Regions from separate parts of the Homo sapiens genome. Here all the other regions are reported to be linked to region 1. The links are microRNA targets in miRTarBase. Many come from high-throughput screens and were not tested one by one. Region 1 holds a microRNA gene; each other region holds the end of a gene's coding sequence.

What was found. The annotated mature microRNA hsa-miR-6830-3p reads UGUCUUUCUUCUCUCCCUUGCAG and lies in region 1 at 2,362-2,384, opposite strand. An mRNA with a match to its seed (bases 2 to 7 or 8) in the 3' UTR can be bound and repressed. Matches are read on the target gene's strand: a 7mer-m8 pairs with bases 2 to 8, a 7mer-A1 pairs with bases 2 to 7 and ends in A, and an 8mer does both.
Region 2: the mRNA of IER5 is a reported target of hsa-miR-6830-3p. Seed matches in the 3' UTR shown: 7mer-m8 at 2,103-2,109 and 8mer at 3,221-3,228.
Region 3: miRTarBase lists PCDH17 as a target of hsa-miR-6830-3p. Seed matches in the 3' UTR shown: 7mer-m8 at 6,250-6,256.
Region 4: the mRNA of CRISP1 is a reported target of hsa-miR-6830-3p. Seed matches in the 3' UTR shown: 7mer-A1 at 4,991-4,997.

Annotation. Positions count from the first base shown.
Region 1 is chr5:132,215,488-132,222,611 of GRCh38, forward strand. It overlaps MIR6830 (microRNA 6830), which reads right to left and starts at 2,431; the gene lies at 2,362-2,431. P4HA2 (prolyl 4-hydroxylase subunit alpha 2) reads right to left here. Exons shown (of 15, transcript NM_001017974.2): 2 at 3,058-3,157; 3 at 2,265-2,361; 4 at 1,710-1,861. The coding sequence starts at 3,139.
Region 2 is chr1:181,088,573-181,095,696 of GRCh38, forward strand. IER5 (immediate early response 5) reads left to right here and starts at 128. Exons shown (of 1, transcript NM_016545.5): 1 at 128-4,328. The coding sequence starts at 331. The coding sequence ends at 1,314. RefSeq lists silencers at 1-176, 487-646, 847-1,066, 1,641-1,935 and an enhancer at 1,457-1,626.
Region 3 is chr13:57,724,521-57,731,644 of GRCh38, reverse strand. PCDH17 (protocadherin 17) reads right to left here. Exons shown (of 4, transcript NM_001040429.3): 4 at 2,334-7,033. The coding sequence ends at 6,351. Among named protein-coding and RNA genes, the nearest start is that of PCDH17, 96 kb to the right of the region's middle.
Region 4 is chr6:49,829,594-49,836,717 of GRCh38, forward strand. It overlaps CRISP1 (cysteine rich secretory protein 1), which reads right to left. Exons shown (of 8, transcript NM_001131.3): 8 at 4,664-5,850. The coding sequence ends at 5,723. Among named protein-coding and RNA genes, the nearest start is that of CRISP1, 33 kb to the right of the region's middle.

The DNA of each region.
Region 1 (7,124 bases):
AAAGGCAGCCGTGGTTTCTGGAGGCAGTGAGCTCACTGGGCACAGCTCCAGCCTGGCTGAGCTCACCAATCCCTCTCCAGAGGCCACCCTGCCCCCAGGCCCAACCCAGTCTGGCCACATGGGCTAAAATGTCTCAGCCAGAGAGACAGCTAGTCTGAAGTTAATCAGCACTCACAGCTCAGGGAAAAGAGGCAGTGAAGAGCTGGGTACAATGGCACTGTGCCTATAGTCCCAGCTACTCAGGAGGCTGAGGCAGGAGGATCACGTGAGGCCAGGAGTCCAAGGTTGCAGTGTGCTACAATCGCACCTGTGAATAGCCACTGCACTCCAGTCTAGGCTAATATAGTGAGACCCTGTCCCTTTAAAAAAAAAAAAAAAAAAAAAAAAAAAGGCAGCGGGCATGGTGGCTCACACCTGTAATCCCAGCACTTTGGGAGGTGGAGATGGGTGGATCACGAGGTCAAGAGATCAAGAACATCCTAGCCAACATGGTGAAACCCTGTCTCTACTAAAAATACCAAAAAAAAATTAGCTGGGCATGGTGGCATGTGCCTATAGTCCCAGCTAGTCAGGAGGCTGAGGCAGAAGAATTGCTTGAACCCGGAGGCAGAGGTTGCAGTGAGCCGAGATCCCGCCACTACACTCCAGCCTGGTGACAGAGTGAGACTCAGTCTCAAAAAAAAAAAAAAAAAAAAAAAAAGTCAGTGAGTCCAGGGGACTAAACCCAGGGCTAGGAGTTAGGAGAGCCCACCTCCAGGCCCACCGTACCATCTCTTCTTATTGACAGAAAAGTATTAGGGCATAAAAAGTATTATCACAATAAAAGCACCAAGTATAGTTTAAAGCTTTTAAAAAGTTCACACTCTCATCGGTAATATCACTTCTAGGAACTTACCCTAAAAAAGTAATCAGAAGTATACACCAAGAAATATGTAAAAAGGTGCTGATAATTCAGAAAAAATCCCATATCCAATGACTTGACCCATTTGACAGTATTATCAGTATGACAGATTATCACCATCTGACAGGTAATCACCATCCAGCCATTAAAATCATGTTGCAGAAGAACATTGAATGGCATATAAAGAAGCTGAGAAATTCACAGAATTTTTTCTTCTGTCACAAATCTACCAACAGATATGCTTTGTTTGTAAAACATATGAATAGGAATGAATTTAGATCAGACCTATGCTCCCCAACTTGCCCTGGCCCCACCATCCAGCCCACTTGACACTTGTAAATTCATTGTCCCTCCAAGCAACTGAGTTTGCATGCCCTGGTATGTATGTATAGTTCCATTTTTTAAATGTATATGCATAGGTAGAAAAACTACAATTTTAATAATGCTCACCACTGGGCAACTGGATTAAGAATTATAATTCTCTTGTTTTTGTGTTTTCCGACTTTTCTATAAACATGTATCACTAAAGTATAATTGGAAAAATGTCATTAGCAAAAAATAAGAAAAGACAGACACTAAAAAAAAGACGCTAAAAAAAGAACTGAACATCATTACATGTTAAAAACCAAGGCCAGCCAACTTCCAGGTCCCCACAGAGAAGGGAGAGAGCCATGAGACCAGCAGGGTCCTGTTTCCACAATGTACTTGCCCACCAACACCCAGACCCAAGACAGGCTCAGACACAACAACCCAGGCATGAGCACACAAACATATGGGCTCACTCAAGCACCTGCTCACCGTCCCTCACCTGCAGCTGAGTCCTGCAGGACAAGGTCCTCCAGCGCAGGCCAGTCTGTGTTTAGCCGCTTCACCAGTTTGTAGGCATTCACAGGGTGAGCCAGGTAGCCCTCAGCATCAGCAGCTGACTTGCTAGTCAAGGCTTCCATTTTGTTGGCCCAGCTGTGGAACCAGAGGAAAAGGAAGACTAATGCGTCCACCCACATAGGTCTTGACCTGTGACAATTTTCCTAGTGAGAATTCCCTGGTGCCAGGTTCTGGGGCCCTTTTCATCAAGAGGCAATGAAAAATGAATACAGTAACTCCCCACAGATACTTCTAGCCCCTTAATCTAGATAACAGCTGGGACCCCCAATGTAAGGGAAAAGGTCTTAAATAGAAAATAAACAGTGACTCCTTAGCCCATGTACTTAGCTCCTCTCAAGCACTGGCATGAAGTAACCAGGCCAGCCCCACATCACCCTCTCAAAGGTTTCCTCTTATAGGCACCCTGGATGGCTTCCTTGTTCCTTGAGGGGCAGAAGGGAAGGAAGGCCAACTAAGGATGGTTGGGGACTTAGGACACCTCTTAATCTTGGAAAGCTTGGCTTCCTCCACAAGGATGTACTCTTTCAGAGACTGCACCAGCTCTTTCTCTGCATAAATCAGGTCAGTCATGTGCCCTGCAAGGGAGAGAAGAAAGACACCAGTGAGAAACAGATGAGGGATGTCCAGCCTCCTTCCTTGGGGCACAGAATACCAGCACAGAAGCAAGTCCCCTGGGATAAGAACATGTCAGCTCTCTGAGGATTATGGGGACTTGGAGTTAAAGGGGGCCTAGGCACTCATGGGGCTCTATCTCGCAACTTCAGGAAGAAAGAGGCAGAGGCACCAAGGGGATGTTTGAGATAAGTGCACTGGATGTCACTCAAGAAGCAGCCCTAAATCTCATTCTCCGACTGTTACATAGCTGGTCATGACACTGGGGCATGGATATCCTGGGGGCTCACCACAGGATAAAAAGCTCTGAACTTTAGGTCGGAAGGATAGGAAAAGCTTGATCCTCAGGATACAAAGGATTTGCTGCTCAGAACCACTCTCTGGTCCATGGGCAAGGTGGTCAAAAAGACCAGAGAGCCCAAGTGCAGCCTGCACTTCCCAGGAAGAAAGACCCAATTCAGACATCTGGCTCCCTGAACATCCAGATCATTGGGATCTTATAGGGGAAAACAGCAACTCTGCCAGTTCCACTCTCCTCAGAACTGGCCAAAACCAGTAGTTAAGGCTATCCCACTCTAAATGAGAACAGGCTGCAGCCAGAGACATCCGTGGCATGTGAGCCAAGGTGTCAGGGAGACGACAGTCCTGTTGGCACGTACCAATAGAGGTGAAGAATTCGGCCTGCACACAGCTCAGGACACCAAACCAGGCCATCAGCAATGCAGACACCCAGAGTTTCATGGTCACAGAGGGAAGTGTCTGAAAGGCATTCAATGACAATCACTGGATCAACAAAGTGAAAAAGACTAATTTAGGTGAGGAGACACATAGGCATGTACACACATATGCAGATAATCAAACATATCAAAATCCTGGCCTAGCACACAGAAGCTAAAAAGGACAAACAGCAGAAAGAACAAAGAGCGTGCAGCCAGTGATGTGTGCTCAATTCTGGTCCCTGCTCTGGGAAGTCACGTGCCCTGCGGAGAGAGCCCATCCTCTCAACTCCCAGCAACCACCTGTACCATGAGAAGGCGGAATCGCAGTGGGGTACAGTCAGCTCGGGTTCCAATGGTCTGTCAGTCCAAGATTCTGGCCCACTCCTTCTTATTTCACAGACTGCTGTTTGTTTCTATCTTACCTTCCAACACATATGCCAGGACAGTGCCAGGTTTTGGGGAACCAGTCCCTGCCCACAAGGAGGCAACAGTACATGAGAGACAATAACAGAAAGATAATTTGACACAATATCCTCCAGAGTACCAACACCCAAACTAAGGTGTACAACAGATGGCCAGCCAGAAGAGGAATAAAACTAACCCTTGTCAGTCTGCACCTGCCAGAGAAAGAGCAGTCAGAGGAGACAGTCTCCTAGGTAGACAGTGTTCTTCCTGTAGTAAGGCTCCTTGGCAGACACTGTTCTCACTGGCCCGTCACCATTCATTCACAAATATTTACTGAAGACCTGCAGATGCCAGGCACTGATCTAGGCACTCAGGATACAAAAATGAATATGGCACACATGGCCAAAACCTCAGGCTGGGCTGCTGACATGGGAAAGGGGCCAGCTACTGTCTTCTCATCAGCCCAGAAATAGGCACAACCTGAGACAAACCCCACTGGCAGTAAACCTCAGTCCACAACAGAAGCCTCCGATACCGTCTCCCAGCTCAGCCATGCAGCCTAGACTGTGCTGGAGGATTAGCACCCATCTGTACCCCAGCTCTGCCGGTCTTCTTCCTGCCCTGCTTTTGAGCACCCCACTGGAGTGCTCAAATGGAAATTCACTAAGACAAAGCAAGCAAAACAAAGGAAATACAAATGCTTTCCCAAAAAAACATAAGCCTTATCTGACAGAATTCTAAGTCTAAGATAATGCCAGTTCATCAGTTTTTTGCCCGCCATACTTGATTAGACACACAGCACACCCACCATTCCTCATCTTACTCTTTCAGAAGAAATCCTAATCCATTGAGATTCCAGGTTAGGCTCAGAGAAGGCCAACCACAACTCCCATCTGCAAATGGATCCTCTATCAGAAGGAAAGCATAAGTGAATGGCGCCATGTGTTCATGCCTATGCCAAATGTCTGCAGAGCTGACAGTCTTCCTGTCATAGTCTAGGTGTGGGGGTCCCAAGACACACAGGACAATTATCTTCCAACCTGGAACCTGCTGCAGGGTAGGGCGTATTGTGCTAAGGGGTCCATTAGGGAGTTAGAGCAGCAGAAGAGAGCAAGTCATCAAGAGAAAGTGAGTAAGCCTGGGCTTGCCCTGAGGCAGAGTCCAGGCCCTCCTGGTTCTAGCCACAGGTCTGCTCCAAGGCCTTACTATACTGTCTTCTCTATCCCAGGATTTCAGAAGGCTTCTCTCTTGCTTACACAAGCCCCTTATACCTAAGGGATTGGGTGTCTGTTTCTTGTTCCTCAAAAGGCTTGACTGGCTCAGGCTCAGCACCTTCTGTATGTATGTAGGGAGGGGACAGTGAAAACATAGAGCTGGGAGGATGTATCTGTGATCAGAAAGGGACCAGCTGACTGCTCCTCAGAGCTGGGGTGGTGGGAGAACAGGGCCCAGGCAGGTTCCAAACCAGACATGGTTGGAAGTGGGGAACCCAGCATCTCTACCCAGGTGTGTCTCCAGTTGCAGTTGCATACCTTTTTAGAGGCCAGATAAATTCCAGGGAGGAAGTCTGTCCATTCCTTTCAAATCATTCTGCTCCTATCATCTACGGTTCATACCTCACAACACTCAGGGAAAGCCAGGTTTCTTCATTACATGAATACCAGCTGTGATTTCTCTGGAATGTGCGATCTGGCTTAGACTGAGCCCATTCTTGAATCTCAGCCTGGAGGCAGAGCCTCAAAGAATCACAGATAGGGTTTGGGCAGAGCCTCAAAGAATCACAGATGGGGTTTGGGCAGAGCCTCAAAGAATCACAGGTAATTACAGATGACTTACCTACCAAGAGCCTGCAAAGTCTTGCTCTGGTGGGAGAAGGGGATAACTAACTCTGCTAGCCTGGAGAGCTGGGCACCTCCAAGCAGCAGCTCCCAGACTACCACATCAACACTGACATCTCTGGCAGGGGTACTCTGGAGCCCTACCCCATTTCTCCCAAGCCTGGGCCCCTTAACTCAAAAGGCTCTGTACAAAAAGTCCTCTAATTAGAGTCAGATTGGGAGGAGGCAGCATCCGAGAGGGACTGTGCCCCACAATGTGGGAAAGGCCAACCTCCAACCCATCTCATAACTATGCCCACAGCTTGCTTAAGACAGAGTAGGTGAAAGTATGTGTACCTGCTGAGTGCCCCTACAAAGTGTCCAGTGCTGCTAAAAGCCCTCCCAGAAACCCTCAGAATCCAACTGGAATAAGTCTGGAGGTGAACAATGTCAAACCCACTTTTATGAAAAACAAAGTGACATCTTGAGCAGAAAACCAATACTGAGTTTTATCTGTGCTGCATCCCCAGAGTTTAGAACAATGTCTGTCCCATACCAGGAACACAACAAAAAATACTTCACCACAGACTTGTTCAAATTAGGAAACTACAACAATAGAAGATTTTACATTTCTTCTATACAATGAGTTTTTATGGAGTATATTAAAAATGAATACTATATATCAACATGAAGAGATCTAAGCATACTGTTAAGTGAGAAAAGTGGGCCCCAATAATATGCACTCTATAATTCCATTTTTGTAAGGAAAAATTAATGTATATGTGTATATAGAGAGATGCAAGAAAAGAGTCATACATCTGGCTATATCTTGGTGAAATAATTTCTTTTTATTTTTATGCTTGTTTCTCTAATCTTTCTACAAGAAATTCTATAGCAATTTTTAAAATTATTTTATCATATGCTTAAAATGTAAAGAAAACAAAGCAGGCCCTTCTCAAACAGACTCCAAACGGGCCCTGCCAGCCCTAGTGTTTGGACCCCCACAGGAAAGTCCTGCAAAACCTGCCAACATCCCAGCAACAGTGATTCACCCATCAGGCGACTGGCACTGTTTCTAAACACAGGGCAATTCCAAGACATACAACCAGAGGTCCCACCAAACCTGAACTTTGGAAAAGACATTTACAATCTGGCCAAATGGCCATGAAAAGATGTTTCCAGCTGCAAACCAGCAGCGTCCTTAGCTTCTCTCCTTACCTCATCAGGCAGAATCTCTGCCAAGCTCCCAGCTGCAACCCAAATGCAACAGCCTGAGTTTTAACAATGTATTTAACAGCCTAGAGACAGAACATGAGCTTGCTGAGAACAAACTGGTCTTGCTTGGCACTGAACAAGAACCTGCCTGCCTTCTGTGAAGGGGGAAAACCTAACTGGACACGGCTCCCCGCTGCCTCCAACTCTAGGATAACAGGGCTGAAAGGACCTGTGTGTTCAGCCTAAGAGGATCCAGAGGCTCCAGGAGACCCTGCCACCAAAGCACATGGATGTCCATTCAGGCCTATAAGCTGCTGCCACGGCACCCTAGGCAAGTATGGGGGGTACCCTACTCTCCTTAGCCTCAGTCATCACCCTGATCTGAGCCACCCCTAACTTCCCCTACAGGCATCCTGGCCCCCACTACACTGGCCTCTCCACATGTCATCTGGCCTTCCTCCCACCTCTGCTCTACAAAGTAGCCAGCATGGTTTATCAAAGCCCTCCTTTGGCTCTCTACTGCCGTCAAGATAAAGTTCAAACTCTTTAGCCCAAAGGGTCCTTTTGAGT
Region 2 (7,124 bases), not on the chromosome of region 1:
CTCCTCGGGCTCCGATTGGCCGTGCGCGGCGCACGAGGGCGCGCCGGCCAGCCCCGGAACGGTTGGCGGCCCTTCGTGATTGGCGGTCGAGAAGCCTATATAAGGCGCGGGGCAGCCAGGCTGCCCTGTTTAGCGACCGGACCCGAAACGGGGAAGTTGTCTTGTTTGGAGAGGTTAGTAGAGCAGCGCGCGCGTCACCAGAGTCGTTTCTCTTCGGAGTCTTAGGTGATCGAGGGTGTGCCCAGGGGGCGGACTTGTTTGCGCCTCCCGTTCCCTCCCAATTTCCAAACGTGTCACCCCGGCGCCGACGGCCCTGTGCAGGGGAAGCAGATGGAGTTCAAGCTGGAGGCTCATCGCATCGTCAGCATCTCTCTGGGCAAGATCTACAACTCGCGGGTCCAGCGCGGCGGCATCAAGCTGCATAAGAACCTCCTGGTCTCGCTGGTGCTGCGCAGCGCCCGCCAAGTCTACCTGAGCGACCCGTGCCCCGGCCTCTACCTGGCCGGTCCCGCTGGGACCCCGGCGCCGCCACCGCAGCAGCAGCCCGGGGAGCCGGCGGCCGGGCCACCCGCCGGCTGGGGAGAGCCGCCCCCGCCCGCCGCTCGTGCCTCTTGGCCGGAGACCGAGCCGCAGCCGGAGCGCTCCTCCGTCTCAGACGCGCCGCGGGTAGGGGACGAGGTGCCGGTGGCCACGGTGACTGGAGTCGGGGACGTTTTTCAGGGCGGAGAGGCGGACGCGACGGAAGCTGCCTGGAGCCGCGTGGAGGGGCCGCGCCAGGCGGCGGCCAGAGAAGCCGAGGGTACCGCCGGAGGCTGGGGCGTCTTCCCCGAGGTATCTCGTGCCGCGCGCCGCCCCTGCGGCTGCCCCCTAGGCGGGGAGGACCCGCCGGGTACACCGGCCGCGACCCCCCGCGCTGCCTGCTGCTGCGCGCCGCAACCAGCGGAGGACGAGCCCCCCGCGCCGCCCGCGGTGTGCCCCAGGAAGCGCTGCGCGGCGGGGGTGGGCGGCGGCCCAGCGGGCTGCCCGGCGCCCGGCTCGACCCCGCTCAAGAAGCCCCGCCGGAACTTAGAGCAGCCGCCGAGTGGAGGAGAGGACGACGACGCGGAGGAGATGGAGACCGGGAACGTGGCTAACCTCATCAGCATCTTCGGTTCCAGTTTCTCGGGACTCCTACGGAAAAGCCCCGGGGGCGGCAGAGAGGAAGAGGAGGGAGAGGAGAGCGGTCCGGAAGCCGCCGAGCCCGGGCAGATCTGCTGCGATAAGCCGGTGCTGAGAGACATGAACCCCTGGAGCACAGCCATCGTGGCCTTCTGAGCCCTTGGCCCCCCTGCGGGGAGGAGGTGGAGCAGCGGGCGTCCCCGAAGTGAGGGCCAGGCCCTTCCCGGCTGCGAGGACGCCCAGAGACCGCGGGCGCTGAGCGCGTTGGGCAGACTGGTTGCCTCTGGGCATCGCAAACTGCCCCCGGGCGCATCTGGCTTATCTGGAGACCTGGGAGCTTGAGGCTCATTGGAAGAGGACGATCGTTAACTTTTGTGTTTGTGTATGTCTGTGTATGTAAGTTTGTCTTGTGGCATTAAGACTATTTTGCTCTTCTGGAATGCACCACTCCTTCCCCAGGGTTTAAGAGATTGGGGGCAGACAGGGACTTTCCTCTGCCGGCTGCGTGGAGAAGGAAGCGGCTAAAAGGTTTGGGCCGGGGAGTTCCCCATTCGTTCTCCGGGGAGGGAGGGACTTTACACCTACCCCTCACCGGAAAGCTAGACCCGCTTCAGGGCCAGGAGTGGCGTTTCCGCACAGGATTTCCTAAGACGAGAGGGATTTAGCCAAGAGCACAGACTTGGATTCCTTCTGTCCCTCCCCACCTTTCTCTCCCAATGAAGAAACGTTTATATCCTGTGATTACTCTAGGAAAGGGGCGTATTAACGGTCCTTTGCTTCCCCGCAGGGGAGAAAAAGCTTGACGAACTTCACAGAAGAGTTCAAGCTTGGAAATAATGGAGTTTATAGAGAAAAGATATATTTTTAAAAGCTCTAGGTCAGAAGTACTACACAGTGCTTTTAAAAAGTGTTTAATGAGAGTTTACAGACAGAAGCCCGAAGTGGAAAGACCTTATGGTTTTGTAGATATGGTGACTCCAGTCTTTGTTGTATAAAGGTTGGGGGAGCTGATAAGGTTTTTGTACAGTATTTTCTCCTTCGTTGTATTGATTTTTGTATAAAAATGTAACTTCTACGTGTCTAACACGTATTAAATATTTTGAAGCAACGTAACTGCCTGCTTGTCTGTAATAACCTGCCTGGGTTGGGAGGGAAGTGGGAGGAGGGAAACCAGGGCCTGAGCTAGAAAATTGAAGGTGTGGTTCTTAGTATCAGTCATTCGCAGACTGAGGACATTGTTTACTGACTCCACTAAGTATCAAGAGAGACACGTTTAATTTTTCCTCCTAGATCAGAGGACTGCTATTAGATACTAATATCGGCGACCTGTCAGGTTCTAGAAACCTGCCACTACAACTGCCTTTTCTAAGGTCAGTTTAGACCAATTTGTCACCCAATATGTGGGTGTCTAATACTAAGTAATTTAACCAACTTTTGAAGCCCCGCTTATCCACAAAAATGTTTTTCAGCAAAACTTTGTTTCCTGTTAAGCTATTAATACGGGTCATCTTTTAGCTTTGTAATTGAAAAAAAAAAAGTTTAGATAGTAGTTTACCTTAAAAGCCCATTCGAACTGACATAGGAAGATGAAAGAGACTGACTTGTCCAAATTGTCAGGTCCACCTCTGCATCACAGTGGATGTCAGGATGTAAATTTTCAGTTTTTCTCTTACATCTAGAAAGTAAATATATTGCTGAGAGGGAAATTGTTTGCATCAAACCAGATAAGGAAGGAGGGCTAGGCAAATTTAGTTCTCATTTAGCAAAACTTCCTGATTTGTTTTGTTACTTAAATGGTGACATCAGTGTTTGGTCATGGTAGACACTTAGGTGATGATAGCCAAAACATCCATCGATTTTACTAAAATCACTGCCATTAAGAGAGTTTTTTGTCTCTTCATGTTCAATGTTTGAAAGGTATTCAGTAATCTATTTCAGAAGCAAATCAATTAGGGAATGGTGTTTATTAAAATACGGTACAGTTGCCAGGACTTTAAAAGATGGTACTGGTTTCTAACAACTTACGAGTATATAGGGTATTTAAAAGATGGGAGAGATTGAAGAAAGACAAAGGTTTAAAGGTCATAGCCTTCGAGCATAAGAGGCATATGAATGGTGTCTTGGCCTTAACTCCCAATTATACGAACTTCTGTTTTAGCTGAATAGGCCAGTGCCTCGTGCCTTGATATTTCGGCAAATCTATTAGTGGTTCCTTAAGCATAGGGAACTTTGTACTTTATGCTCTGTCGCCATAATAATGTATTTATAGAATTAAACATTCTCAAATTAGGGTCTTGTTAAACTGACTTTTTCTTTCAGAAAGTAGCTACTTAAATTCTGTTACAGCTACAAAAGATCCATCAAGTGCTGACTGCTTAAACTGAAGAAGGTGTCCAGGGCCTTAATTCTGCAAACATTTCCTGTTGTTAGAAAGTATGATGCTTGAACAGCGATCTCAGTGTATTTTATGTTTTAAAGGGGGTAACGTTTGGTGTGTTTAAGAGAGCTGATGTGTTTTGGATGAGACTAAAGTTGATCCTTGGTTTTACATTAAGATGAACCTGGGTCCATGTGTCTGCTTAAAGAATGTAAATTGGCATACTTGATAGGAGGATAAAGCTTTGTAGGAATTAGAAAAGATCATTCTCTTTTTTGTTGCAGAAGCAGTATAGTATAGTAGTTAGAGCATGGGCCCTGGAGCCAGGCTGCTTGGTGTCTTCCTTTATTTATTTATTTATTTAATTATAAAAAGTAAATATAAAGTGAGCTATGTTGACCAGGTTCGTCTTGAACTCCTGGCCTCAAGCAATCCTCCTGCCTCAGCCTCCCAAAGTGCTGGGATTACAGGCATGAGCCACCACAACCTGGCCTGCTTGGGTTTTTCTATCTTGGCTCTGCCACCTAGCTGTGGGTCCTTGGACAAGTTACTTCATCTCTCTGTGCCTCAGGTTTTTCAAATGTAAAATTGGGATAATTGGATCTGTCTCATAGGGTTGTGAAAATTAATGAGTTAATGCTCTTAGAAGAGTACCTCATATGTAATAAGCACGCAACTGTTAATTATTGTTAATGTAGAAGTTAATTCTGTGTATAAATCAGATACACTGTGGTCAAAGATTTGTGTGTATTTGTAAGAAAAGAGGAGAATGGAGAATCTATTTTTAAGTGGTCCTATGTGTGAATGCTGGGTTCTTTTATTCCTCTTTTTCTCTGGACACTTGGCAGTCAGGAAGCTTTGTTCTACCAACATAGTTTTGTTGCTGTGAATGTCTCACACCAACCGGATGATTTTTCCAATTGTATCAAACAACTCTATTTTCAGGGAGGAGTAAGCTGAAGTGAAAACAGGCAAGGAGCAAAGTTCTTGTTGACATACAAATGCTTTCTGTGGATGAGTAAAGAAAAAAGTAGCCCATAAAGTTATTTTTGCTTGAATTATTGCGCATGGAATGTTTAAAACATGCTTATTGATAGGTTCTGGACAAGAGCCTTCCCAATGCCAACCTAGGGCTATCACACAACCAAATCAGATGCAGTGTGACTAGAAACGATGCCATGGTTTTAGTACCTAACCACTTCTTCACCACTCTGGGAGGGACCTAGTCTCTTGATCAAATTAACCTTAGCTCTGGGGTGTAAAAAAACCTTCTGACTGCTGCGTAAAAGCCAGATGTTTAAAGTGCTTTCCAACAAGTACTCCAAGAAGATCACATTAATAGGGAATAAAGTCTGGGCGCGGTGGCTCACACCTGTAATCCCAGCACTTTGGGAGGCCGAGGCAGGTGGATCACCTGAGGTCAGGAGTTCAAGACCAGCCTGGCCAACATGGTGAAACCCTGTCTCTACTAAAAATATAAAAATTAGCCAGGTGTGGTGGTGGGAAAAAAGAGAATAAAGGGATAAATGTTAGTAATGTATTTTTTTTTTTGAGACAGAGTCTTGCTCTGTCACCCAGGCTAGAGTGCAGTGGTGTGATCTCAGCTCACTGTAACCTCTGCCTCCCTAGTTCAAGCGATTGTCCTGCTTCAGCCTCCCAAAGTGCTGGGATTACAGGCATGCACCACCACGTCTGGCTAACTTTTGTATTTTTAGTAGAGACGGGGTTTCACCATGTTGACCAGGCTGGTCTCAAACTCCTGACCTCCGGTGATCCACCTGCCTTGGCCTCCCAAAGTGCTGGGATTACAGGCGTGAGCCACTGCCCCCGGCCTAGTATGTACTTCTCAACCATGTTGTTTTAACCCTGTCTTCCCTTTTAGAAACCATCATTTGTTCTTGGCGATGGGAACTAATGATGGAAAGCCTGAATTGCTCCTCCAAGGTGACTGGGTTTTCTTTATGGCACCAAATAACCTTTCCATTCCTTCTACTCATCACTGATTGGATTTGGGAGTGTGAAGTGAGAGGAAATGGGTCATTTGACAACTTTGGTGGAAAGCTTCTCAGAATAAAGATGTCAGAAATATTGGGAATGAAATTAATAATTATAAAACTGTTCCATCTTATCACTGGGTTAGTCTGAGTCTCTCTTACTGCAACTTACTAGGCATGATAACCTAGCCTCAGATCCTGTGTGATGGGGTCGACAGGCTAATCCCACTGTGATATGGCATTTGATGGACATTTATTTCCTTGTACTTTTTTAAAAAAAAGTAGAGTTAGTTCAGTTCACTGAATAACCAAAGGATTTCTGATCTCTTGCCCTAAATATTTTATTCTTCTCCTGTTTGTGAATTTTTTATTCTTCTAGACTTCCTTTTATCCCAGCAGTCCCTGAAAAAAGACAGGAATGAAAAGAAACGCTGATCCAACCTTTCCGTGACTATGAAAGAGGCCATTACTATGAGGTGCAGTGCTCCGGTGGGGAGGGAGGCCTGCTTCCCAGGATTCCTGGCACTCTTTCCAGTAATGAGCAGTTTGTCTCTCAGCCTTTGAACCATTGTTCAAATTTAAAATTCAACCCAGTGGAAAGCCTTGGGAGGAAAAAACATAGAAGGAGAGTTGATGTTAGGAATCACTGTGATCTTAACACATGCCCTTGGAGTTTTTCAGTAATAATTCTTAAGGGTACGATAGGGAACAAATGTGGAAGAGCAGAAAGTGTGAAAGGATACGCACATCTAGCTGAATGCCTCCTTCCTGATTCAAACACAGTTTTTCCCAATGCCTGCTACCACTGCTCCCTCCCGCAGTGGGAATGGGGGTTTTAAAATAAAATCTCTCTCTAGCAATTGCTGTCTCCCAGAGGAATACAGCCCAAAGCTCTTTGCTGGACTACAGCCTGGGGTTTATCTCAGACCTCTGGAATCCTTCAGGCAGGGAAGGAGAAACCTCCAGGGACTGCATTCCTGAAAGGGCCTCTCCTCTTTCCTCTCCAGACCAGCAGCAGCCTCTATCACCGGATGCTGCCCACTTATGGGCAGGTGAAATAGAGTATTGGCTATCAGCTTTTGGAAGCTGCAGGAAGAAGGGCTGGTACCCAGCACTGCTACTGAGCATCTCTAGCAGGTGATTCTTTTAGGGGACTGGCATAGAGCTGGCCTGGTGTATTATATTAGTCCGTTTTCACACCACTATAAAGAAATACCCAAGACTGGGTAACTGACAAAAGAGATTTAATTGGCTCACAGTTCGCATGTCTGGGGAAGCCTCAGGAAACTTACAATCATGGTGGAAGGGGAAGCGGGCACGTCTTACATGGCAGCAGGTGAGGGCACGTGTAAGCGCGGGAAAAACTACCATTTATAAAACTATCATGGGAACAGCATGGGGGAACCACCCCATAATCCAATTACTTCTCTCCCCTGACACTGGGGATTACAACTTGAGATTTGGGTGGGGACATAGAGGCAAACCGTTATCATCTGGGATATTTGCAGTAAATCTACTTTTTATGTAATAAAGTTTTCTGGGACCTGGTCACAAGAAGCCTCTAGGCCTGTGTGGTAAGCCATATCCCTAACTTA
Region 3 (7,124 bases), not on the chromosome of region 1:
TCTTTGAGCTTCAGAATCCTTACTTCCATAATATCTTAAAAATTTGTGAAAGTGTTCTGTGAATTGAAATATGCTCTATAAGCAGAGTTTATTATTATTAATTTAGGTTCTGAATTATCCTTAGGAAAGTAAGCATAGTCTTCATATGAGCAGCCCTGAATGCCAATTTTTTAAACAAAATCTAATGATAATCTATTTGAAGTTAATTAAAAAAGGTTCAAAATTTGGTTCTTTTTCCTTACAATCTTTGGAAAATGTTATGAAGTAATTTGAATTACATAACTTCAGAAAGCTATATTTTAAAATATGAATCATAATTAAAATGTGGTTTATTTGATTATTTTAAATAATTTAATGTATATAAGAAATGGAGTGTGGAACAAATAGGAAATCATTCCTCTCAAAGTGAGATGTTTCATTTTGTAAGAGAAAAAGTAGAGCATCTATTTAGAGTTAATGAACGGTAAGTTGATCTGTGTAATATACAGTTTGTAAAAGCTCACCAATATCTTCCCTCCCTTACTTATTCCTTGCATGTAAAATACTTATTGCCATAGTTTGACCAAAACCTAAGTTATTTTTTGATAACTCTTTCTGAAATATTTAAAATGAAGAACGTTAAAAGAAGCTGCACTCTCTTTTAGGAATACTGAGAATTTGATCCCTAATGTAGAATAGATTTCTTAAAATATCATTAGTGTCTAAAATGAACAGAAAATGATACATGCCATTGGTGAGCCATATGCATCCACCACCTCCAAAAGCAGGTAATAAAGAGCTTTAAAATAGTCCATTAGCTGGCTGATCTATTTGTATGTGCCTTATTGATGCTATACTGGTCTTTACAAATTAATTTAATTGCTATTGCCAAATAATTGTATCTAGTGAGTATACCTACTTAAGTAAATATTATCTGGAGGACTTTAACATTTCATTGATATCGAGTAAGCCTGTGATATATGTCCCTTCCACAGTTTCCTCCTAATTGCAGCATAGCCAGACAGGGAACTTCATTTGAAAGACTCAGTACGCCCTCAACCCTGGTCAGATTGTTCAGGTAACTCAGTTATCAGCTTGGTGTACTTGAGGGCAGTGAAGGAATGGCATGGTAAGCATATGGATTTTGCTGTTCTTAAAAGTAAAGTTATTTTCTTTATGTAATGAAATTACTTGTATTAAGTAGTAGTGTTAAGGTAGAATAAGGTCAATTTCTATGTTAGTAAATATCACCAAGCAAAAACTATACATATTCTAAGGGCAAAATGTAATTGGCTTAGCACTTCTTTGTACCTTAGGATCCTTGTATAGCACCTAGTGCATAAGTGGTCTTCAATAAAAAAGAAAAAGCAAGCAAATAAATGAACAAAAGGACAAATATGCAAGTTATTTAATCTATAACAATAAATCTAACCTATAAAGATCTTCTTAGATATGGAAAAGCAATGCACTCTTCATGATATATGTTATGCAGCTAGAAGAAAAGTAAAATTTTAAAAAATTCCAAACAAAAAGAATATTACACTAGTTTGAAATTTAGAAGATGTCACTCAGTTAGTGAAATGGCAGATATGTGGGATGTGTGGATTAACTAAGAAAAAATGCAAACGACCAAATCTAATTTATAAAGAGTAATGTGTATTAGAATGTACCTAATTACTTGTCCAACAAGATAGTAACTCTGACACCATTCCTTTTTAGTGTTTACTCCTGAGGCATCATAGCCCAAGGCAAACACATAGTAGGAATGCAATAGATGCTTGTTAAATGAGGAGAAAAGGAGGTTTATTATTTTTAAATGCCAAGATAAATATGTGTTTACTTTAAAATACCATTTATACATATTGTATATATTGGATTCTGTACTATCTGGAGTTTCAGGCATTTACTAGGGGTCTCAGAACGTTTCCCCTGCGGATGAGAGAGGACTATTCTATTTGCTTTCATTAGTCATGTAAGATTATGACAGAGCTTATAAATGTACTTTTCTGAAATCCTCTGAGATCTTATGCCAAATTCTCTTTATATTAATTGTAAATATTTAAAACCACAAATATTATTAGGCTATGACCCTTTGGTAATTATTTAACTAGCCAATTTATCTAAGCTATGTGAAAGATTGTTAATCCACTTCTATTGAGAAACTAGTGATACTATCAAGTAATTTTTGTTTAAAAAAGTCTTATTTTAATGGCAAGCAGATAACTAGCAAAATGAGCTGTGATGCCACAGTTTGCTTTTCCAAAATAATTATGATCAGGGTCCCTGTGATATGCACAGGGAAGTGTGTAACACATCCCTTCTGGGTTAATGAATTCAAGGGAAGGCAACACCACTATTAGTAATAGCTTTTTATTCGGAGTCCTCATTTTCCAGATAGATCACATTAAACACAGCCATTAAACAATAGCGTTGAGATAAATCCATACAATGTATGCTGCTTTTGTTGTTGTCCTTGTTCACCAATCACTTGGTGCAGCTAAGAACTTTATGGAGTGATGGGCTGATAATGGAAATAGCCAACCTGCAAAACACTGGGGCCAGGAAAGTCAGACTTTAATCAGGTCTCATTCAATAATATTTAGAATCAACACATCTTGATAGCCAAAACTCTCATTCGAATTAGTGCTCTGATGAATGCTGTCTGTTGTCAAAAGAATATAATTAGACTATTATGACTGGGCATATATTATGCCAGACCTGTCTATCTGTTGACCTCAGTAACTTTTACTCTATTAGATAACAAACAGCTTTTAACCTGGTTCTAAAAAAGCATATGCTCTATTACTACATGACTTTTTTATGGTGCCATATTTTAAATTGAACAATATCTAGATCCTTTAAAGGGAAGTCATGTTTTACAAGATTTCAGCTAATTTTGGAAAACAAAACAAGTTAGTTTCTCAACCAGGAATTCAATTAACCTATGGAGTAGTGAGCCAATCTTTGTATATTGCCTGCAATAAAGTTAGAAATGTCAGGTTAAGAAATAGCATGAAAGAATTCTTTGAAATTGCATGATATGTCTCTTTAATGTTTACTTTGGTATACGTATAACTAACAGATTCTCACTACTTTTAACTCTGATGAAAAGGTTATTTTGTTGCTTTTTTTTTTTTTTTTTTTTTTTAGCTCATCTGCAAGCAATTTTTAGAAGTTTGGGTTTCTTACTGAAATTTCCATGAAGTGATTTTTTTTTCTGTGCTTAACTTCAGTTACTTAAAGACCTAAAAGACAAAGTGGTATCACATCACATATTTTGTATGTGTGGGCTTTTTTGAGGGGTTAGTACTTGAAAGATATGAATTGATATTTTTTTCACATTCTAAATTATGTTAAAACCCCTTCAAATCTCACTGTTTGCTCATGCATCACCTATTAGAGCAAGGTGCTCTCTAAAGGTGTGATTTTGGCATCTCATAGGCTTCCTTGAAAGCCAAGCACCAGAGGTCTGCAATAAAGGCAGTTGCCAGCTAAATGAATAAAAGCGAGATTTCCTCAATTCAACTATAAAAGCTTAGAGTCCTGACTGCTGAATTACCACCAACTTGTAAATAAATAATCACTACTAAATACAGATAATGTGTTAAACAGCTAACACTAGTAAATCACTGGTGACAGAGAGCCTAAAGGTAAATCCCTCACACATTGGCACAACCAATTATTACAACCTTATGGTGTTTTAATGTCCTCAGACACATATAATAAATTGAACAACTGGTTACTTAGCATTAAGAATGTTTATAAAATAAACCCTACTCTCTTTGCTGGTTTCATTTACATACTGCTTTAGATTTTACTAAGTGGATATCTGTCTAGTAAGAGAGAAGCAACACTTGGTAAGACTAAATGGAAATCAGTTTTCCATCAAATTTCAGCTATCAAGCTAAATCAACCTGTAGTCTCCTGGCAAAAATAACATCATATAACAGAGACAACACATTTCAGATACATAAATTGTCCAAAATATAGAGAGTCAATTAGGTTTCACATGTACAAGGTCCCTTCTTTTCTAATTTAAACATTTATGAGTAATAAAAACCAAGAGTAGAGCTTTGGAAAGGCTGTTACTAGGAACCAAAATATAGTTCTCAAGAGAATAAGGCTGATGGGAGTTGTCCACTCTTCCCTCTCAAAGCAGTTTTGCAAACGAGGTACAGTCTAAAATATTGATGGCATTTGGCGGAAATATTTTCAGTAGAAGTTTTTAAAGTTTAAAATTACAAAACTTAATTTAATTCAATGTTTGTTTTTGCTTTTGTTTTTGTTTTAAATATAAGAATTTTTATGACATTTTTGCTGTTTCTACACTGGCTTGGTGGCCAGAAGAGAAGGCACAAAATTATCCACCAGTTTGCAAATAATGCATTTTTCTGCTCCAGTGCTCAAACAGCCTTTATTTAACTCAGCACCACATTTTCTAAGGTATGGGCACAAAACTGTTTGTCATGAAGCTGTAAAATGCCAAAAATTTTAAATGCTGAAAGAAAATGTCAATCAAGGCATTTTCCCATCTGCTGCTACTTCTGCAAGTGCTAATTTTATTTTTCCCAATTCCTGAAATTTGAGGTTTCTTAGCCTCATATGGAAGTAAGTTTGAAACTCGCTAAATGTCACAAGGAAAGGTGTAACCAAATGAAGGAATAGAAGGTGTATTGTTCTCAAAGGACACCAACAAAAAGAGGCAGAAGAGCACTGAGATAAAGGAAAACATTTTGTTAAGACCCAGACCTCTTGAAAAACACTACACAATGCAAGTAACCACTGCTGGTACATACATGCATTAAAGCATTTTTCATGTTTTCAAAATATAATGGGAACACACATCTGAAGCACTTAAAATACTTTTGAGAACCAACTGATGGCATAATATCTACACAGGCAGAAGCTGTATGTTATTGAAAAAACATGAAGAAGTTTCAGATATTGGTACAAATGTCAATTCTTGTGATTTAGCATGACTTTAATAAAAGCTTCTACAAGGACTTGCACATAACCATGACTGATGGATGTAATTTTTGACCTTTCAGTTAGCTCCATCAGCTCACTCAAACACATTTTGAACAGATTATGTACTGTAGTACTTGGTAGACTATACATTAAACAAGAGACTTTGCTCTGAGGCACTGCTTCCCACACTCCATGGGGAAAAGGAAGCAGGAAAAAACAAAACTCATAGAGTTCGACAGCTACCAAGGCAACACTTGCCATTTACAATATAAGCCCAAATATTTTTGCAACACAACTATATATTAATTTAATAAAATACACAATATAGCTCTTACACACTCAACAATTTGGCTCATATGCACTGAATCTGCAATAAATCAATAAAATATGTCATTTGATGTAAACACATTGAATCTTCTTACATTTGCACATTTAAATGGTCATGTGACTTGCGTATGTCTAAGACATTTTCACTTTCCTGAGCTATTTTAGTGTCCACAAATGAATAAAACATATTAATCAAGTTAATTTTCTCTGAATCTTACCACTCAATGGTAACTATTTTTTAGAACTTTTCTATGTCAAATTTAAAACATATTCATCATTGTTTAAATCTTTGTTGGACACTAAAATGCTAAATAGGCATTTTAAATCTTTAAGTTTTCTTCTTCTTTAATGACGTGAATTAGTCTACGTGTGTGCAGGACAAAATGGACTGTATCTTTTTACATTTAACTTTTATATGACATGAGATGTCTTACAAATGACCAAAGGTTTTTTTTTTGTTTTTGTTTTCGACTAATGATATGGAATGTTCCTTGTGTTTATATGTGTGTCAGGTAACTTTATACAGAAATGTTTACCACAAATATGTGTTAATGTTTGGTGTAGCTTGGACTACTGCAAGGTCTTTTCAGGACTTTCAGTAGAAGCCTGTGATGACTGCTAGAAATCCACCACAGATCACAAATTATGACCCTGCTTTGTATGGGGTTTATAGGTAAACAGTTAAGTCAGCATAAATCACGGAGGACAGTCTGAGAGTGATCAGAAATACTTCAGTTCTCACACTGCATACCTTCCTAACAGATTGTCAAAAGGTAATTCTTCTCCTCATCCTCCTTTTTCATCTCTCCTTTTTCTTCTCTCTTTTTTTCTTTTCTCTTTAAGCATCATTAATTCTGTCCTAATACAAGTTTGGTCAAAACGAAACCATTGTTATCTCTGAAAAAGAAATCAGCAGTGGAAAGAACATACTTGTGGGCACTTCAGATGTTCACTAAAAGCCTTAAAGCAGCATTGGTCTTTCTTCATCCCTGTAAAATGGGTTATCACCAGGAGGGATCATTTTTAAATCAACAGAAGAGACAAGAAAATGCCAATGCCTTTTTTTTTTTCTTTTTTCACTTTCTCACAGCCACAGGGTCGTTTCCCCGGCAGTCTTGCAAAAGCTTATCAATTTCTCTCACAACTTCCTCTGCATCCACAGACTCTCTGCCCAGATCCCTGTTGGGGTGGTCAAGCTGCTCAAGAACAGCACCCATCTCACTGGAATCCCGGCTGGCTCTGGAATGCACATCTGCAAAGACCCTTGCCATCTGATCGGAAGCCATGAAGGGAGGGTCTCTTGGTTGCTTACTAGGTGACAGATATTGACTGTCAGTGGGCAAGTACTGACTGCTTGCTTCAGCCAGGGCTCCTGGTTTTGCTTCACAGCCATCCAGGGAGCCTTTTGTTGAGGTGCAAGGCTCGATGCACGCCTTGGTTGGGCTGCTTGATGCTGAGGGGACCTCTTGGAGGAGAGGGCTCAGGGCACGTTTGGCTTTTAAATAAGGTTTAACGTTGGCAATGAGAATAGTGTGCTCTCGCTTGTCTTTTCCAAATGTACAAAAAGTCTTTTTCCCAGTGGGATTCACAGTTTCGTAAGTCTCAGTCTCAACATTAGCTTCAACTGTAGGTACAAAGAGATTTGTGCGGTAATCTGCATTTTCAGCCTGATTGGCTGCAGGGAACTGTGGCATCCAGCACCTGTCAGAATGACCAAGCACTCGGCATTCATCTGTGCAATTAACACACTCTTCTGGTTCTGCAAAACAAAAGAGAAAACAGCAAATCCAATCATTAGAGTTTTCTTTAAATTTCTACAGAGGCTGTGATCAGCTCTCAATGGGCTTGCT
Region 4 (7,124 bases), not on the chromosome of region 1:
GGTTACTAAATGCAGTGTATATTGCTGTGAATGCCATAAATACCACCTCATGGTCTTGTTTCGGAAGTACTTTTCTGGAAGGTTTTTGCATTTAAGTGGTAATGAATTCTGAACTTCAAGTTCCGTGAAGCCGGATAAAAACATTTCTATTCCATTTTTACATGAGGCCATTGGTTTCACAGTATGAAAATTTCTATATTGCTTCTTGATTTTTCTTCCCATAAAAACATGCAGTAACTACAGGCTAATATAAGTATAAGGAACGTACCACATTCCTACTATGATACAATGGTTTCCTGTATATGATCCCAGAACTGTTCTGGTATCACCATTCCTTTAGCAGTGTCCTTCTTTGTTAAGGAAAACACAGTATTTACCATGATGTCCCAACTATTTAGGCTTTGAGCACATTTCAAAAGTCCACTATTACCTTGCATGGCAATTATCAGTCTGGACACTTTGAAAGATTTTATTTTCTTTGAAAGATTTTATTTTTATTTTAGTCTCCACATAAATCTATATAGAATATAGTATATATTGTAGTGTTCTTATAATGGAGAGTCAAGAATGTGCTACCTTTGTTTGGGACCTCATTTAGGCTTTCTTTTCAAGTTACCCAGTAATCTAGATCTATTTTGTGCCACCCTGCCCTCCACTGCCACCTGACAACCTAAACAGATTTTTGTTCTGAATGGTGACCTTTTCTACCTTTGCTTCACAGATCATCCTGACTTTCATTCCTACATGTAAACACACACGCACACACACACACACACACACACACACACACACACACAGAGAGAGAGAGAGAGAGAAACACATATCTGTTTTGGGCTCCTGAGTCTGTGACACTCCTCCCCAGACAGTGACCTTGAAATATACCATGAGTTTTCATACTATGAGTAAATGTGCTACTCTGTCCATAAACACTGTTGATAAGCTATGGACATGAGGGTGATGTTGAAGACCATTCCGAAAAATTACACCGTTGTTTGCCACACATTTTCTTGGAGATAGCCTATGAAGCTATTTAAGTCACTTAACCAATATTCATCTTTGAAGTAAACATGGTTTCTACTCCCTCCTGCAAGTCATGTGACACATGGTGGAAACCTAGGGAACTTTCTTTTATATCAACTTTCAGGAGAAAAGAGTGGATTCTGGGGAAAATAAAACACACTGAAACTAAAAACAAATACCAGGTATCGGGCTTTGTTTGTAGCTACACTGTTGGCCATATTTCTTTTTTTTTTTCTTTTTTCTTTTTTTTTTTCTTTTTGAGACGGAGTCTCGCTCTGTCGCCCAGGCTGAAGTGCAGTGGCACGATCTCGGCTCACTGCAAGCTCCGCCTCCCGGGTTCACGCCATTCTCCTGCCTCAGCCTCCTGAGTAGCTGGGACTTAAGGCGCCCGCCACCACGCCCGGTTAATTTTTTGTATTTTTAGTAGAGACGGGGTTTCACCGTGTTAGCCAGGATGGTCTCCATCTCCTGAACCTCATGATCCACCCGCCTCGGCCTCCCAAAGTGCTGGGACTACAGGCGTGAGCCACCGCGCCTGGCCCCATATTTCTTTAATGTTCAAATTTACTAATGTTTATGTCCTCATTTGAAACAGGCAAAGATTTGTGCTTCTTGATCACTGAATATATTAATATTTTGCAACACTAAGGATTCACTGTTTAATATTTTGTTTTCACTTTCATTCCTCTACTTACTTAAAACGTGTGTCTGAAAAGGTTTATCTGCATTTTTTTCAAATTATGTAATTTAATAAAATGAAATCAAAGGATTAGATATTTCAAATAACTCACAGCGGCATAAAGTGTTTCCAGTTATGATGTTAGAAATGTAAAAAATCAGAAAATGCTTGAGTGAAAGGAGGAATGAGAGCAACAGAGGACGTAGATGGAGGAGGGAAAGACTGGATCATGTCATTTGTATTAGATTCTATAATTTTGACTTTTGGAAAACTGCATCTCTCATCAAAAGAATATAAAAACTTTAATCGTTTTTCTAACCACCTGCATAGTATTTCATATCATGGATCATTCCTAATTTACTTAACCATTTATTGCACTTACGTGTATTTTTATAGCATTTGGTTTTCCTTTATTATAAATAATGCTTAAGTAAAAATCTTTTTATAGAGATACATTTTTGCATGTGAGTATTTCAGTATAATACATTCCTTCATGAGAAACTAACAAACCAAAAACCATGTTATTTTTAATATCACTTGGTATCTTTAAATAGGGGTCTTTCTACAAACTTTTAGTTCCCACTAATGATGTATTGAAATGGTTGCCTCTTCCCACTTCTCTGATGGGTAGATTTTAACATATAATTAATTTATTCTTGGCTGGACAGAAAGATAATCCTAACTATATTTGGAATACACTTTTTTGCATTATGAAAGAGGTAACTTTTCTGTTTAATGGCATGTGCATTTCTGTACCTATTTGGTGGTTTTTCTCTCCTTTTTTTTCTAATGTAACACTTTTCATTATTATCAATCTATAGATTCATTTTCTATATTTATGTAAACATACATAAGTCACATAGATCAACTATGTATCGACCTTTTAAAAGATTTAAAAATTAATCTTAACCTTTCACTTGCTGTACTTCTGCCTTTATACATTTTTTTTTGTTTTCCAGTGAAATTACTATCTTCAAATAAATACTTTCAAGATTTCATGTCATGATTTTGTTCAAATTTCCTGCCCTAGTATTTTAATACTGTTTTCCAAAAATTATCTTTCTCATATGTAAATATCTTTATCAAAACACACATCTTTAATTTAATTTTAATTTTGGTGGTCTCTATTGAATAATTATTTTCCAAATGAATTTAGGATAAACATGTAAATTCTATAAAAGCTCTTCTTGATATTTCCATTCTGATTGCATTGAATTACTAAATAATGTGGTGAAATCAGGTATTTCTACTAAATTGAATGTCTTCTTTAATCAAAGGTAGTTTTATACTATAGATTTCTGTGAAAGCTCCTTTATTGTATTAATAAATTATTCCATACTTGTTATGTTATTTGGGTTGGGGCAGAGACTGTTCATTTATCACCATAACACATGTTCACTGCTGAGTTCACAAAAGGGAAGAGTCCAGAGCGTGCCGCTCAACTATGTCTGAAAGGCAGAGCTCAGGGACTGGAGTTTGAAGAGAATGAATAATAATGCCAGCTAATAGTTATCGAGCACACTTTAAGCACAAGATACCTTTCTAAGGATTTTACATACTAACTCATTCAATCCTTAAAACAAACTTATGAAGTAGGTTCTATCTCTTACTATAACTTATAGATGAGGACAAAGAAAAATAATCTTTTTCAAAGTCACAGAGCAAGCACATGTTGTGTCCTGAATTCAAACCAGCTGGGTGACACCTCTGCTCATGCTCTTAATCTTTGTATTACACACTTAGAACTATTTTTTTTCTTTTACTACTGTGAAAGTACAGACTGCCACTGGATATTGTTTCTGCTTCAGAATTATTTGTTATTATTTATTCTATATTCAATAACATTTGGAAAGAGGTGTAAGACTGTTTCCATTTTTTAGAAAGATGTTGCATGGTAAATAAGAGTTTTTTCTCTGTCATCTAAAATAGCTTTTTTAATGATTTTCCAAACAATATGTGTGATTCTGAAAGCTTTTGAGATAATAGAAGAATGGTGTACATGAGGTCATCCACCGCCCCCAACCTTCTTCATTACAGGGTACTTTTCACACAGTCAGTTTGCTCTGAGATATTTTTTGGGGGGAATACTTTTTATATTTAACAAATACAATTTATTGTGAGATAAGCCAACATATTATTTAAATTTGGGTAATGTAGACAAATGAGGTCAAAGTTTTGTTACTTGCTTATTTGATTTTCCTTAGACGTAGGCATACCCTTCCTCCTCCTTCCCCAACCCTTAAGAAATATTTGAATATGCTTACTCTTATGCAAAGTGGGAAGAGATGTGATTGGAATGCAAATTTTGAGAAGTATCATGTTAATTTCTAGAAAGAGCATATTGTAGTGTAAGAATACAGTAACACTGCCTGCCAATATGTTACAGTAGACTGCAGGATTAGTTGGTTATCTAGCATGCAAAATTCAGAACTCAGGGCTCTAATTTAATTATTCTAAAATCTAATGCTACCTTGGTGAGGTAAGAGAAATCACAATACCTGGTAATGCAAAAATGAGTAAAGATTTTCTACAGCACACACATTTAATTTTCTTAGAGTAAATTATTACTTTGATTTTTGTAATGAGTTCCATTTATTAAATATTTCGGCTATAAAGTACCAGCCTACTTACTGTGTCCCAGGATGAGTCACTGTTCTCCTGATGTTAATATGTCCATGATTGTGCTAATGACAATTACTCAAAAGATAGATACAATCAAGTGGATAGATCTAACATATGTAGTTTAAGTAAAAAGTGAGAATGGGTCTGAAGGATTTACATGGGAGAAATGCCCATAGATCTAAATGGAAAGACATGGGTCATGTCAAGAGGGCGTCATTCTCAAATTGTCCTCTTTTCTTGGAGCCACACAGAATTTTTGTACCTGTGACGAGAACCTCTGTATGATGCAGAATGGGTTTGAGGTATGGCTTACCTGTTTACTTTTGGAAAGTGGGTGATGTCTTTTTTTTTTTTTTCAAACACTTTATTGAAATGAGTAAAGAAATATACAAGTAGGTAGAACTGGGTATAACTTTGGTATAATGTTAAAATTTGACCAAGTATTTTTAGCCTTCCCTTTCCCCATGTCAGGCCCTTCAATATTCCCTAAGGCTTCAGTGCATTTTACGTTAGTTGGCCTTAACTGTGCTCTTCCATTGTGTTGAAATAATCATAACCTTTGCAACCCTGTTTACTCAGAAGATGTTCCTCATTCCACCCTAAGGCTTTCCTGAATCTCCAAACAGAAGCTATTTATGCTCATCTGGCAATAATAATATGTGACCTATATGTCTTTAGGGACTTAATTTCTCATATTATGCTATTTTATATATCTTTTATACTGCCTTTGCAATGAAATGAAACTATATTCCTTCCATATATATAAACATGCATCTTGTATGCAATCAGTACTGAATACATATTTTGTTAAATTAATGGCATACGAAGCTTTTTTATTGTTTCTTGCTTCACAAATGTATATATAGATGTGTCAATAAAACAATGAGACATTTAAACTACTTCCAATTAAATGATATTTACCTTGCAAGATGAGACTGAACTCTGTTTGCTTTGTGGATTCCTTTAATGATTGATTTAAAGTAGAAGTAAAATTTTAAAAGTGAAGAATTATTACTGGATGTTAGTTGTGCAGGGAAGATAATCAGAGTGGTTGAAAATATGGGGAAGGCGGGGGTGGGAGTTGAACCACATAAGACCTATTTTAGCCCAGGTTACTGTTGAGGGACCCAGTTATACCATAAGTTGAATTATGCCAACTTAAAAACTATAAATCACATGATTTAAATTTAAGGCAGGTGTTGGACTTGACCTTTTACTCCAGCACTAAGAAAGTTTAAAACAGTGTTACTTCAGGATGTATCAGGATGGGAGTTAAGGTCTCCAGCATGATTAAAATCAGTGAAATTTAGCAGAAGCTACTGAACTATAGCAAAAGACATGAATCCAACAGACATCTCCTCCTCATCGTCACAGCATAGAACAGTTGAAAATAACAAAGACCTATTTTATCTCAGTGTCACACAGACAAGTGGCTTTACAGAATAGGATAGTTGTTGAGTGGTTGCATCCCAGATAATGGACTTGTATGTCACAGTCGAAGTATTCATCATAGTAGATGCAGGGGTTAGCTGAAAGAAAATAGTATGGTTTTACAACACAGTCTTTTAAAAATCGCATTTGCTGAGGAAAGAGACCATCTTATTAAAGACAAAAAGAGAAATTTTTATTAACAATTGCTAACTAAATTTAATTAGCATAAGCTAACTAAATCTGAATGCAAAACAGGTGATAAGATCATGTATGAAAAGAAAAAGGTAAAATTTTTGTCTTTGTGTAAAACAAGTTTTTATCACAATTTTTTAAGTCCAATATAAACAGATTGGAGAGGAATCATATTTTTAATTACACTGTCATTTTGAAAGTATTAACTATGCCATTGCAATATAAAATATTCATAATTTTTTGTCTAATTATCTAATGCTGCATTATTTAATGGTTAAAGATTTGCTTTGGATTATTAAAAGTAATGTATAGCCAATGGAAAATGGAATTAAAAAGCACATATAGGATGGCATATATAATCTCTCCATCCACCCAGAGGTTATCTCAACTAACATTCTAGTGATTTTTCTCACCTTGCTCTATCCCATGGATGTGCACGCACCTACATCCTGGTACATACAGAGGCAGAAATGCACACGAAATTCTCCAATCAGTATGAAGATACCCAAAATTTTAAATTTGTGGCAATAGCACCAAAAAGCTTACCAAAATATTTTTTGACCTGAATTCTCTATCACAACTAACCAATGTATCTATTTGTCTCTATATAAAGGCAAAAATAACAATAATTTAATTCCCTCTCTCTTTTAAGATTTTCTGACCTTTATGCAGTCCTGAATTTGAATCTTGACAATGGAAAAATTTAAATTTTCCCATTATATCTCTTATCCTTCAATTATAAAGTTTGATCATTGCATGAAATTTATAACAATCTTATAAATTTTATTTTTATTTTTATTTTATTTTTTTTTTTTTGAGACGGAGTCTCGCTCTGTGGCCCAGGCAGGAGTGCAGTGGTGCAATCTCGGCTCACTGCAAGCTCTGCCTCCCGGGTTCACGCCATTCTCCTGCCTCAGCCTCCCGAGTAGCTGGGACTACAGGCGCCCGCCATCACGCCCTGCTAATTTTTTTTTTATTTTTTAGTAGAGACGGGGTTTCACCATGTTAGCCAGGGTGGTCTACGATCTCCTGACCTCGTGATCCGCCCGCCTCGGCCTCCCAAAGTGCTGGGATTACAAGCGTGAGCCACCGCGCCCGGCCTACAAATTTTAAATTTACATTTATGTCTTACTGTTTATTATTTTAGTGAATATCCTTCTATGCTATACACATTTTCCTC